Linked DNA regions of Homo sapiens. The protein of the gene in region 1 purifies or fractionates together with the protein of each later gene. This does not show direct contact. Each region holds a gene or a part of one and is shown in the gene's direction. Other genes may lie near its edges.

What was found.
Region 2: the proteins of CHIT1 (region 1) and RMDN1 purify together in Homo sapiens (affinity purification with mass spectrometry; 2 studies listed by BioGRID and IntAct, with this or other methods). This does not show direct contact.

What each region holds. Positions count from the first base shown.
Region 1 is NC_000001.11:203,226,673-203,233,776, reverse strand, and holds the start of CHIT1 (chitotriosidase-1 isoform 1 precursor), read left to right. Parts: upstream 1-4,103; 5' UTR 4,104-4,140; coding exon 4,141-4,165; intron 4,166-5,214; coding exon 5,215-5,244; intron 5,245-7,104.
Region 2 is NC_000008.11:86,498,661-86,505,688, reverse strand, and holds part of RMDN1 (regulator of microtubule dynamics protein 1), read left to right. Parts: exon of another isoform or gene 1-2,273; intron 2,274-7,028.

The sequences.
Region 1 (7,104 bases):
AGACCCCCTGTATGCTTGGTGCTGAGGGACACATAGAGAGGTGTGGAGAGAGGCCCCACTCTGCCTGGCTATGGACAGTCCAGCTACAGAGATGAGATGCTCACATGAAGCAAGAGAAAAAGGTGTGATACCAACCATCAAGATGCAGTCCCATGAGATCTGGCTGGCGTCCTCCCACCTACAAAGCCCTCTCACACATTATCTATTCGATCCACATCATTACCAAATAAGATAGGTAGTATTATCCCCATTTTACAGATGAGAAAACCAAGGCTTGGAGAGGCTGTGACTAGCCCCAGCTCAGCCAGCCAGGTTGGATGCAAATCAGCAGAAGCTTTAGAATTTCTATACAGGCATCTGCTCTGCAGTAGGGTGGGACGGGGACTTGCTTTGAAGCCTCATTTTATATCAAGCACACTGGTTTTACTTGGTTTGGGCTTTGGCAGTGGCTGAGAAAGGGGTGGGAGAAGCCAATGGGGCTGGAAAGGAGAGTATAAAATCTATGAAAGTAATTTATTGGTGATATCCATTGAGATACACCCAGTTCTGTCTGTCTCCAAGCCAGGGTTCTTTCCTATTCTGGATGGAAGGAGTTGTTCCAAGATAGCAGAAGGTAGTATGGAGTACATTGACTGTGGAAGAGGCAAGGCTTAACTCAGAGTGATCTCTGTAGGACTTGAGGGCCAGGGAGGGCAGCCCCAGGAGGGACACAATTTAGGAGCAAAGGTGTGGTGGGCTGTTAATTGAAGTTTGCTGAAGGCATCAGAGACCTCTCAGTTCTACACATGGGCAATCTGTACTGGTGGCTGGGACCTGCCTACTTAGGTGGGAACTCTGGGTCAGTCCCTGGGGAAGGCTCCTCCCCAGCTTTGGTGGACATGGGCCTGCCTTCTGCTCCCAGGTCTCAGCCTCCAGGCAGGGACTTATTCCTTGAAATCTTGCAATTCAGGTCTGGCCATCAGGTGAGCCCAGGATGTGCCCTACTAGACTGAGGCATACTGTAAAATAAATCCAGGCTGGCAAGGCATTGTATCTCTCTCCTCTCCCTCCAGCCATGTCCAGTGCCCTTTTACACAGAGCCCCTCAGCAGAGATCACCCCCACCTGCCTACCTCAACCAGTGGTTCTCAACCGACAGGACACAGAGTTTTTAATGATGTCCCACTGTCCCTGCATGTATCGTGGGCAGTTTCCTCACTGAGAGGCTCCATCAGTGAACATCTGGTGTGTTTGTTATAACTTCCTTCCCTTTCTCTCTTTGTCCAGCAACCTACTTATTCTCAAAGCTCTGTTCAAGCATCACTCCACTGGCTTTCCCACCCCACCCTGGCTGGTGTTTCTCCTTGAGCTCCTTTGCTCCCTGTGCCCACCTTCATTTACCACGTGTCATTTCTGCTGTATATGGTGTGAGGGGCCTAACTTTGATTCTTTCCAGATTGGTAGACAATTAAGTCATTGGCATTTATAAAACATCTTTTTCTTATTCATTTGAACTGCTACCTTCATTGCACACACCCTCTCCATATATGCTCAGACCTACCTCTGTTTGTCTGTCCTGGTGGCAATTCCATGCTATTTTAATCCCAATGGAATTATAATAAGTTTTGTATAGTGTGTCACCATCATTACTGGTTTTGTATTTTAGTTGACAAAAATTGACATTTGTTATGATATTGTTTTCCCGTGCAAGAACATGTTCAGATCCTATTGCAAATTTATATCCTGTGGGTAAGTTTTATAGATTCTACTATTAAACTTATTATTGTTATTAAATTTATTTATAAATATTTTATAGATTTTGACACTTCTGTGAATCAGACATTTCCTTCACTTCTATTTCTAATTGGTTATTGCTAATGTAGAGAAAAGCTATTCATTTTTGTACATTCACCTTAAATCCAGCCATATTACCAAACTCTGTTATTATTTTTGATCTGTTTTTCTAGAAAACCTAAAGACAATAGGGGATGGGGCAGTGTTTGGAGAAACTCAGATTCTGGGCACTGCAGTGCATGTCCTCCTGGGGACATGAGGCATAGCGAGAAATTCATGAAACTGACAGGTCAGTTGTGTATATGGAGGCGGGGGCGAGATAAGGTGGCCCCTAACTCTCCAGAGAAGCCTCTCCTCCCCGAGGCTCAGGACCTCCCAGTCCTCACTCCTGCATCCCACTCTCACTCCCCCACCACCAAGGAGCTGAGGCACCTCTGCACATCTCAGGTGACCCTGAACAGGCTCTTTTGCAGGATCCCCAAGAGAAAGGGCTGACCACAGCAGAAACAGAAGCCATGACTGCAGCAGGGAAAGGGAGGACTTAGGGCTGGTCCATCTGAGTGCTGAGGTCCAACACTCTCAGGGGCCTCGAAGAGGTTACTAGAGCCCTCTGACACCCCTAGACCAGCAGAAGTGGCAGCACTTGGCAGAACCAGGAATAATAGCAGCCACCATGGAGTGCGTTCCCAACAGTCCTCTGAGGATTCCCCTTTACAGATGAAGAAACTGGAGTTCAGGGAAATTAAGGAACTCACTTCAGTTTACACAGATAGTAAATGGCAGAGGAGGAATTCAAACTCAGGAACCTAACTCCACAGCCTGCCGCACCCAATATTCCCACGTGGCCATCTAGGCCATTCATGTTAAGCCCACCGGCCAAAGACTGGATCCCCTAGAAACTGCAGAGCTTTCTCAGGGACCCTGGAGTTCATGCATACACCAGACATTGTCTGCAGACATTACAGTAATATGTGCCCACTTGGGTCCTGTGGTGAATTGAATGGTGACCCCCTCCCACCCCCCGCAAAGGATAACTTCACCTGGAATCTCAGAAGGTGACTGTATTTGTAATAGGGGTCTTTGCAAATGTAATGAAGGTAAAGATCTCAAGATGAGATCATCTTGGATTAGAATGTCCTTCTCAGAGACAGAAAGGAGGGGACATACAGAGACACAGCGAGGAAGGGCGTGTAAAAATGGAGGCAGGCAGAGGCTGGAACGATGCCGTTGCATGCCCAGGAATGCCACAGGCCATCCGAAGCTGGAAGCTGCTGGGAAGTATTCGCCCCTGGAGCCTTCGGAGGAAGCATGGCCCTGCCAACTCCTTGTTTCCAGGCTTCTGACCTCCAGAACTGTGAAAGAATAAACTTCTGTTGTTTCAAATCACCTGTTTGGTGGCCATTTGTTACAGAAGCTCTGGGAAACCGACACAAATGTCCACCATTCTTCTGTTTTTTTTTTTTTGTTTTTTTTTTTTTGATGGAGTTTCACTCTTGTTGCCCAGGCTGGAGTGCAGTGGCGCGATCTCGGCTCACCACAACCTCCGCCTCCTGGGTTCAAGCAATTCTCCTGCCTCAGCCTCCCGAGTAACTGGGATTACAGGCATGTGCCACCATGCCAGGCTAATTTTGTATTTTTAGTAAAGATGGGGTTTCTCCATGTTGGTTAGGCTGGTCTCGAACTCCTGATCTCAGGTGATCTACCTGCCTCGGCCTCTCAAAGTGCTGGAATTACATGTGTAAGCCACCATGCCTGGCCCAAATGTCCACCATTATTATTCTTCATAAGAAACATAGGCATTTCAAGCCATTACCAAACTTATAGTCACTATTTATCATTATCTATTTTTCTCCATCAATGGATATGCAACTATTACTATCATGAAAAGTAAATTATATTTGCAACCCCATTATCTTCTAGATGGAGAAACAGTTTGAGAGAGGGCAGTGGAGAAGCAAGAGAGCTGGTCTGGAACCCAGCTGCCTGACTCGTGAGTCATTTCTCTTCCTCCAAAGCCCTATTAAGTCTGGGGCTGCTTATGGTCCTCACCAACTACACAAAGAAAGTCAGGGTCATGCTCATCCATCAGGAGGTTCAGGGCCACTTCCCGCTTTCCTCTGTTTGGCAACACTAAGAGTCACCCTCTGATTGTTCCAGAAAAGCAAGAATTGCTAAAGGCCATTGTGTCAAGTTTGCCCAATTCATGCTGCTTGACATCTTACCCCTCCCCACCCTGCTCCCATCCCCCCCACCCAGTGCCCCTGATTGCAACACTCCTGGCTGGGGTGGGACAGGGTGGCCAGATAAAAGCAGAGCAGGACCTGGAAAGCTGGTTTGTATGGGCTGCAGCCTGCCGCTGAGCTGCATCATGGTGCGGTCTGTGGCCTGGGCAGGTGAGCCGTCGGATAGTGGGCTGGGTCTCGGGAGCTGTGGGGAGGTGGGGATGTGGATGTTCAGGGACCACTTGCTACCATTTGCAAGGAAGCAGGAGGACTCAGGAGAACTTCAGAGGGTCATTTTATCCCTCTCCATGCCTCCTGGCTTGCAGTCCCTTGATTACCTTTCCTGTGGGCTCCCCCTTAGGCTCTTTCAGCCCAAGAGACTTCATGTTGCAAGGGAAGGCTTTTCTCAACAGGCTGAAGATGACTTGACTTTCCTCTCTCTGTCCTGAAAGCCCAGAGTCAATGAGGCCCCTGCACTGGGTCTTTGTGTCTTTCCCATGTTCTTAGGTCCCTCCTGTTGGCCTTATCCAAGAAGCGCCCACTGCCAAGAACCTCTTCTCCAACCTCATATTGTCTGTCCTGCAAGAGGGCAGCCTGGGGCCAAGATCCTGGGCATCCTTGCAAATTTTCATGGAGGTTCTATTAGGTTGACAGAGAAGTCCAAGGTCACCAGGTGAAAGAGATCTCTTCGAAGGAGTCCTGTCAGACCCTAGGTCTCCAAGGCTGTGGTTGCCTACCACAGCCAGGTAGCGGAAAGGCAACAGGAAGCCATAAACGATGGGAGCAGAGGCACAGGCCCTCCCCAGGAGATGAACTCTCTCCATGCAGCCCTTCCAGATTGATTCTTTCTAGCCCCAAAACAGGCTTGTTTCTTGTTCCGAAAGAGAAACTATCTCTCTAAATAACTCACAAGTCAGCAGTTTTTCCACAATCTTCCTGAATCCACACTGCCCTTTACTGAGGTATAGAGAGGGGGCAGCCTCAGCCCATGGAACTTTCCATCAGCTTCTAGGACCAACCCAGGCCAGGAAGAGACCCCCGTGGTCTGGTCTGCATGAAGGGATGGGCACAGTGCCCTCCTGGGTCCCTTCTGAAAGGAGAAAGCTTGATTTGTATGAAATCAGCCCTCCCTGACCACCTCCTGTGCTTCCGTAAGCTGTGGGGCCTGGGAAGGTGAGAATGGCAGCATAACCCTGGCCTTCTCTCTTGTGTTGCTCCAGGTTTCATGGTCCTGCTGATGATCCCATGGGGTAAGTAGCCTCTTTCTTGGCTGCCTCAGCCCCTTCCCTGGGCTCTGCTTAATGTCCCAAAACACCTTCCCTGCCAGACCTCCCCAAGAGCTCCAGATTTCAGTGGGGACTCTCTTCCAAAGCTCAGACCCCTGCAAATGTCCCCATCTGCTACCAGCCCTCCCAGGAAGGCTCTTGCCTCCTTATCCATTAGCTGAGCTCCTGCACATCTGTGGGGCCAGCTTGCGCATCAGCCTCTTTCAGGGCTTTCCTTTCCTGGGGTTGCTGGCTCCCTCCTCTGCACTCTGTGCTCTTGCAGCACCTGTGTGTTTTACAGTACAGTACTGCCTCTCATTATTGGCTTAGGTGTCTCTCTGCACCAGTCTCAGACTCCAAGTTGCTGCAGGTAAGGAACCTAAGTCTCATCTGGTTCAGCATCCCCAGCCCCTTAGCTCTGCGAGGACAACACACTTGCTTCTGGTCTGTTGAACTGATCAGATGTGGAGCTTGAGAGAGGCAGGAGGGAGCTCCTTGTTGTGTCAAATGGAAAAGAGACCTGGGGGACCTTCAGCAACTTGAACTCCTGGTCCCCGTCTTGTCCCACCCCATTCCCTGGGCATCAGTGGCCTGGGAATGCTGGCCTCTCAGAACTTGTCCTGCGACTGTGCCTCTCACGCTGGGCTGTAGCATTGGAGGTACATTTCCCTCTCAGCCTCATAGGATGGAACAGCCGGGGGCACAGAAACAGCAAACATGGGGAAGATGAGAGGTGGAAGATTTCTCAAAAAGCTTTAGTCCAGGCTACTTCTGGGCTTTCTGCAGTATAGTAATAATAGTAGGACTTTGTGTGGACTAAGGGTTAATATATGTGAAGCACCTAGAACAGAACTTCTTCCTTGCAGTGTTCCTCCGAGTGTTTTACATATATTAACTTTAGCCCACACTGGGGTCCTGTGACACACATTGTGGAAGGTCCAATGGTCTCCCCGTTTCACACAGGAGGAAGCTGAGTCGCACAGCGAGTAAGTTGCAAAGTTGGGATTTCAACCCAGACACTGACATGCCAGAGTCCCTGCTGTTAACCACTGCACTTTATTTTCTCCATAGTACAGAAATTCATAACAATATTTGATATGCGACAGCATGACATGATAGAAAAAGAGCTTCCTGGCTCCTTCCTACATGGCCTGGGGGATGAGTTATCTGGTTTCATCCCCTCCTTCCTTTCTTTTCCTTTGGGGAGTTCACCAATTCTCCTGTATCATTGCAGGCTACACCCCAGCCCCACTAGCAAGCTGCACTCCTGGGTGACCTCTGGTTAGAGACAGTGACCACTCCGGGGCCACGTGTATGCCCAAGGTCAGCCCTCCATGCTCTCGGGTTCTAGTTGAGGCCTGCCTGAGCGGTCTCTTCCCAAAACTCTCCTATAGACACTTTGCACCCCTCCTCTTCCTCGTCCCATCCCTGTCCATGTGGGCATTGGAGGGGGTACAGACAGACCCTGCTGGGGCAAAGGGAAGTCCCAGGTTCTAGACACCAGCCACAGGCACGCTCCAGTCCAAACTCACTGCTCCATCAAGATCTTGGCATAAAATGTTGGCTCATACAAACCACACCATCATAGATTGAGAGACTGGAAGAGACCCCACAGACCACACAGTCATTATCAGATGGGGCCGGGATTGAAGATGAGATAGACCCAAAGTCTATTTTTGGCAGATGCTGGAATGAAGACTAGCATTCTTGCTTCCTGGTGTCCTGGTCAACCCTGCACAGGGCTGACCTCAGTGGGGGTCATCACCACCGAGCCCTCACTGGGAATAGACCATCCCACCCCTGCAAAGTCTTTTCACACACTGTAGGGTACTCTAGAGACAAGTA
Region 2 (7,028 bases), on another chromosome or scaffold:
CCTTCTGTTTTTATTATTTGGCAAAATTACACTTAAAAAAATAAACATTTCCATCATGGGACATGTATACCTATGTAACAAACCTGCGCATTCTGCACCTGTATCCCAGAACTTAAAAAATTATGTAATTAAACCAGAGGGTAAAATAAATAAAACTCAAGTTAATTTGCCTTGTAGAGCTATATGGAAGTGAGGAAGGTGCTCTTACATAAACCCCGTCTGCCTTCCACACTCATATGTATATCTTCTTCCTGATAAGTCTGAGGTTGGGGGAACTGCGCCTTACTTTTCCTCTCCTATATCCCCTAGTGCGGCAATATTAGAACCCAAGGAAGGAAAAACTGGCAAAGTTGTCATATGCCAAGTGGCCATTGCCTCCTGAAATGAAGGTAGGTTCACTTGGTCTCTCCTAAGCAGAAGAGAATGTCCAGGAAATAAAATATTTAAAAAACCATTGAAAATCCAACAAACCCCAGCCTTGAGGTGCGCATGGAGTGCGTGGGATAAGAAAGGAATCAAGTAGCAGCATTCAGAAGCAGTCCTGGGTTCATCCTGATGAGGTCTCTCATTCAGGGAGAGGTGGCTTTCCCATGCTGGGAGGGAGGTGGAAGGAGGCATGACTTAGACATTGGTGGTGGTCTCCTTAGCAGCCTGGATGCTGTTCATCTCCATGATGCCATCCTTCCCAGATCTATCTGCACCATGTGCCTGCCTTTTAAAGGCCCATGTGATATCCTCAAAAGCCCTGCCATGGGTCTCAGGGACTTTGAAGAAGGTAAAGGTCAAGAAGGTGATGAGGAAGCTGGCGAAGATAATAAAAATACAGGCTCCTAAATAATAAGCAGCAGAGGGGAAGAGCAGTCCGACTAAGAAGTTGGAGGTATAGTTGGAGCAGCCGGCCATTGCAGTCGCAGCTGGGCGGGGGCCCTGGCTGAAGAGTTCGGCCACAATAAACCAGGAAATGGGACCTGGTCCAATTTCAAAGGCCACAAAGACCAAGATAGCCCCGATAAAGACAAAGCTCATCCCATTATACTCATCCTTTAATAACAAACAGTCATGAGCATGGAACAAAAAGCCATCCCTCCAAGGCCTATCATATGCAGGGTCCGCCTTCCTGCCCTTTGCAGCAGAAATAGGGAAACTACAGTGAAGATAGTATTAAACACACGTGCACCAATGGTGGCATAGATGGGCTCTTGAACACCTGCATCCTTGAAGATTCCTGTTGAGTAATAGAACACAACATTGATTCCAGAGAGCTGTCGAGAGAGCTGGAGCACAATGGAAATGATGATTGGCTGTTGGTAGCTGGATACTCTAAAGAACTCCAGCACGGTGACTTGCTTTTCTTGTGACATCCTTGCACTCTCATCTTGCATCTCCTGGTTGTCTTGGGATACATCCTGGGTGCCCCACAACTGCTGGAGGATCTACTTAGCATTCTCCTCTTCTTTTCTGTTAATGAGCAAAAACCTGGGACTTTCAGGGCAAAATGGAAGGGCTGCACTTTGTAGGATAGCAGGAAGGATGGTAAAGCCCAATAATACCGGCCATAGCTCTTCAGACCCAAGGATGAATTTGAATTCCAGACCAAAGATCTGGGCCACCAGAATTCTGACAATGATGCCCAGCTGGTTGAGAGTGCCAAAGGTACCCTGCAGGGCAGTAGCTGAGATCTCTCCAATGTACATGGGCATAAAACCTGTGCACAGTCCACAGAAGAGGCCAATAACCAAGCAGCCCAGGGTCAGCATTTCAACCAACTCAGCTGCTTTACACAATCCCATAAGGCAGCCACCAGAGACAGCCAACAGGTTGACGATAAGCATTGAATTGCACCTGTCAAAAAGTGGTTGATAAAGAGTCTAACGGAAAAGGAGCCAGTCATACCAACAATGGAGAATATGGCCACAGACAAGGACCAGAGGGACGTGAGCAACATCTCAGAGGGAGGGATATTTGCCTGGTCACTCAAAGTGTTATTGATAAATTCCTTTATGATCATCTCAGGAGCACTGATGACTCCCGTGTTGTAGCCAACTTGGAAAGAGCCAATTGTAGCAACTGTAATGGCAACGATCAGAGCTGGGGTGACCTTCTGTGTCCGCATGGTCCTAATCTAATTCTTTTCAAGTCTTCAATAAAGATCTAGGAGTGTGATTCCAGAGATAACTTTTTCAGGCAACAAAACCTTCAAAATGTCCTTCTCAGAAACGAGTTTTCTCCAGGTCCTCAGGAATGCTCTAAACTCTCACCATTACAGCATCTCTCAAGTTATTTTTGTTATTTTTTTTTGTTTTTTTTTTTTTTTTTTGTTTTGTTTTGTTTTGTTTTGAGACGGAGTCTTGCTCTATTGCTCAGGCTGGAGTGCAGTGGTGCGATCTCGGCTCCCTGCAACCTCTGCCTTCCAGGTTCTAGCCATTCTCCTGCCTCAGCCTCCTGAGTAGCTGGGATTATAGGCACGTATCACCATACCTAGCTAATTTTTGTATTTTTAGTAGAGACGGGGTTTCACCATGTTGGTCAGGCTGGTCTCAAACTCCTGACCTCATGATCTGGCCGCCTCGGCCTCCCAAAGTGCTGGGATTACAGGCGTGAGCCACCGCACCTGGCCTAACTTAGTTATTTTTATATAGGTAATGGAGCTAACATTGCTGTGGTCTAGATTATTTTCTGCCTTTCTCTATGTGTCTGTCTAATATCATGTATATATATTTTTTCCTAGAAATTAGAGCTGCCTCAGTGATGCTTTATTAACGGTTTATATTTTTGTAGAGCCCTTAACCTAAGAAGAATATTCTTTTACATTTTTAAAGGGTTGAGTTTGAAGAGTTGGGGGGAAGAAAAAGAACATGCTACAGAGACCATGTATGGCTCACAAAGCCTGAAATATTTTATTCTCTGGATCTTTACAGAAAAAGTTTGCTAATCCCTGCTTTATAGTGACAAAATGAAACCAATCCCGGGGTGTTATATTCTTCTTGATTTGGTTAACAAAAGGCTCTAGTACTTTGAGATAGATAGATTTTATTTACAAACAGAATGCTGCTTGGTAAGTAACAAGTTGAAAGCGAAAAAAAGAAAAATCCATCAAATTTCTTATTGGCGTAATATAGATAAGTAAACGTATATTAAAACTTGGCTGGGCATGGCGGCTCATGCCTGTAATCCCAGCACTTTGGGAGGCTGAGGTGGGAGGATCACTTGAGCCCAGGAGTTTAAGACCAGCATGGGCAAAGTGGTCTTAAACAAAGTGAGACCCCCATCTCTACAAAAATTCAAATGATTAGCTGGGTGTGTGATGCGTGCTTGTCCCAGCTACACAGGAGGCTGAGGCAGGAGGATCACTTGAGTCCAGGAGGTCAAGGTTGCAGTAAGCCATGATCTCACCACTGCACTCCAGCCTAGGCAACGGAGCAAGACCTTGTCTCAAAAAAAAAGACTTGCCAGTTAAAAAAAAATTAGTTAAACCAATTGTGAGCCAAAATTTCTGTATATTAGAGCAATATCATATGAAGAAATTAATGAGTGAAGCTTTTTTGTTTTTTACAATCCTCACTTTTTAATTATAAAGGAGAGGGTGATTGGGGAAAGAAGCAGAGATTTGATTTTGAATAGATGGTCTTATTCAACTTCTGATAGAAGAATTTGAGAACATGATCTAAAGATTGCTAGTTATCTATTGATTTCATTTATCTGTGATTATCTTTCCGTTAAAAAAGCAGATAATTGAGAAGCCCTGCACTGTTCTTTTTTTTTTTTTTTAAATGTATTTATGAAGAAGGACAAAGCAGAGAACTTGGTTTTGTTACTGGCTGAATGATTTATTTTGGCAAATACTTAAAATAATTCATCTTTTTAAAGCAACCTAGACTTTAATTCTCACAGCAGCCTTATAAAATAGTTAGGACAAGTCTTATTATCTTATCACATTATAATAATTTTTGAAAAGAAGTTCACAGAGTTAAACTTGAAAGTCAAAATGTTAGAGTGGAGATTAGAACTTATTTTTTTTTTGAGACAGGGTCTCACTCTGATGCTTAGGCCACAGTGGCATGATCACAACTCGCTGTAGCCTCTACCTCCCCGGGCCCGGGTGATTCTCCCACCTCAGCCTCACAAGTAGCTGAGACTACAGATGCACACCACCATGCCTGCCTAATTTTTGTATTTTTTGTAGAGACGAGGTTTCACCATGTTGTCTGGGCTGGTCTTGAACTCCTAGGCTCAAGCAATCCACCTGCCTCAGCCTCCCAAAGTGCTGAGATTACAGGCATTAGCCACGACACCCAGCTCCTTATCTCTATTTCTTCTTTGAATCTATCACATTTAGTTTCAGTGTATTTTGGTAGCATTATAGAAATGATTGTAAAGATGTAGTGCTTTCTGAAGTAACAAAATTCAGTACTTTGAAAGGGAAAACCAGAATTACTTTTGGCTTTATCATAGTCCATTTTTTTCTTGTTTATTTTTTTTCCAACTTTTATTTTAGATTCAGAGGGTACACGTGCAGGTTTGTCACGTGGGTAAATTATGTGTTGCTGGAATTCGGTGTACAAGTGATTTTGTCACCCAGGTAGTGAGCATTGTACCCAGTAGGTAGCTTTTTGACACTCGCCTACCTCCTGCCCTCCCCATTCTAGTAGGCCCCAGCGTCTATTGTTCTTGTCTTTGTGTCCATGTGTACTCAGTGTTTAGTGCCCAGTTAACAAGTGAAAACATGCAGTATTTGGTTTTCTGTTCCCATATTAATTTGCTTGGGATAATGGCCTGCAGCTGCATCCATGTTGCAGCAATGGATGTGATTTGGGTTTTTTTAAAAATGGCTTTATAGTATTCCATGGTGTGTATGTATCACATTTTCTTTATCCAGTTCACCATTGATGGGCATCTCAGTTGATTGCATGTGTTTGCTAATGTGAACAGTGCAGTGATGAACTTAAGGACGTGTGTGTCACTTTGGTAGAACAATTTGTTTTTCTTTGGGTATATTCTCAGTAGTGGGATTGGTGGATCAAGTAGTGGTTCTATTTTAAGTTTTTTTAAAGAAATCTCCAAACTGCTTTCTACGGTGGCTGAACTAATTTATATTCCCACCAGCAGTGTATAAGTATTCCCTTTTCTCCACAACCTCACCAGCATCTTTTTTTTTTTTAATTATTTTTTTTTGAAATTTTAAGAATAGCCATTCTAAGTGGTATGAGATGGTATCTCATTCTGGTTTTGATTTGCATTTCTGTGGTGATAGTGATGTGAAACATTTTTTCATGTTTATTGGCTGCTGCTTGTATGTCTTTTTTTGAGAAGTGTTCATGTCTTTTGCCCATTTTTTAGTGGGATTGTTTTTTGCTTGTTCAATTGTTTTAAGTTCCCTATAGATTCTGGATATTAGACCTTTGTCAGATGCATAGTTTGCAAATGTTTTCTTTCATTCAGTAGGTTGTCTGTTTAAGAAACCTGTCGATAGTTTCTTTTGCTATATAGAAGCTCTTTAGTTAGGTCCCATTTACCTATTTTTGTTTTTGTTAGAATTACTTTTGGAGACTTTGCCATGAAATCTTTGCCAGGGCCTATGTCCAGAATGGTGTTTCCTAGGTTTTCTTCTAGGTTTTTATAGTTGTAGGTCTTATATTTAAGTCTTTAATCCATTTTGAGTTGATTTTGTATATGGTGAAAGGGGTCTAGTTTCTATCTTCTGCATATGGCTAGGCAGTTATCCCAGCACCATTTATTGAATAGGGATTCTTTTCTCCATTGCTTGTTATGGTCAGCTTTTTTGAAGGTCAGATAGTTGTAGATGTGCAGCTTTATTTCTGAGTTCTCTAACCTGTTCCATGGCCTATGTGTCAGTTTTTGTACCAGTATAATGCCGTTTGGGTTACTGTCTCGTAGTATAGTTTGAAGTCAGGTAGTGTGATGCCTACAGCTTTGTTATTTTTGCTTAGGATCGCCTTGGCTATTTGGGCTCTTTTTTGGTTCCATACAAATTTTAGAGTAGTTTTTTGTAACTCTGTGAAAGATGATATTGGTAGTTTGACAGGAATAACAAATAAGAATCTGTAAATTGCTTTGGGCAGTAAGACCATTTTATCAATATTGATTCTTCCTGTCCATGAGCATGGAATGTTTTTCCATTTGTTTCTGTCATCTCTGATTTCCTTTTCATTGTGGTAAAACATCTAACTGTATTCCTAAGTATTTTATTATTTTTGTGGCTCTTATGAATGGGGTTGCGTTTTTTATTTGGCTCTCAGCTTGGGTGTTATTGGTGTATAGAAATGTACTGATTTTCATACATTGATTTTGTAACCTGCAAGTTTACTGAAGCTGTTTATTAGTTCCAGGAGCCTTTGAGCAGACTGTTTATGGGGTTTTCTAGGTAAAGAATCATATCATCTGTAAGGAGAGATGGTTTGAGTTCCTTTCTTTCTATTTGGATGCCTTTCCTTTCTTTCTCTTGACTGATTGCTTTGGCTAGGACTTCCAGTACTATATTTAAAAGGAGTGGTAAGAGTGGGCATCCTTGTCTTGTTCCATTTTTCAAGGAGAATGCTTCCAGCTTTTGCACATTCAGTTGTTGGCTGTGGGTTTGTCATAGATAGCTCTTATTATTTTGAGGTGCGTTCCTTCAGTGCTTAGTTTGTTGATGTTTTTTAAGGTAAAGCGATGTTGAATTTTATCAAAAGCCTTTTCTGTGTCTTTTGAGATGATCATGTGGTTTTTGTTTTGTTTTTAGTTCTGTTTCTGTGATGAATCCCATTTATTGATCTGCATGTTGAACCAACCTTGCATCTCAAGAATAAAGCCTACTTTTGTGGTGTATTATCTTTTCAATGTGCTGCTGGATTCAGTTTGCAAATACTTTTTTGAGGATTTTTATGTTTATATTCTTTTTTCTTTTTCTTAAGACAGGGTCTCACTCTGTCACCCATGCTGGAGTGCAGTAGTGCAATCTTGGCTCACTGCAACCTCCGCCTCCCAGGCTCAAGTGATCCTCCCACTTCCACCTCCTGAGTGGCTGGGGC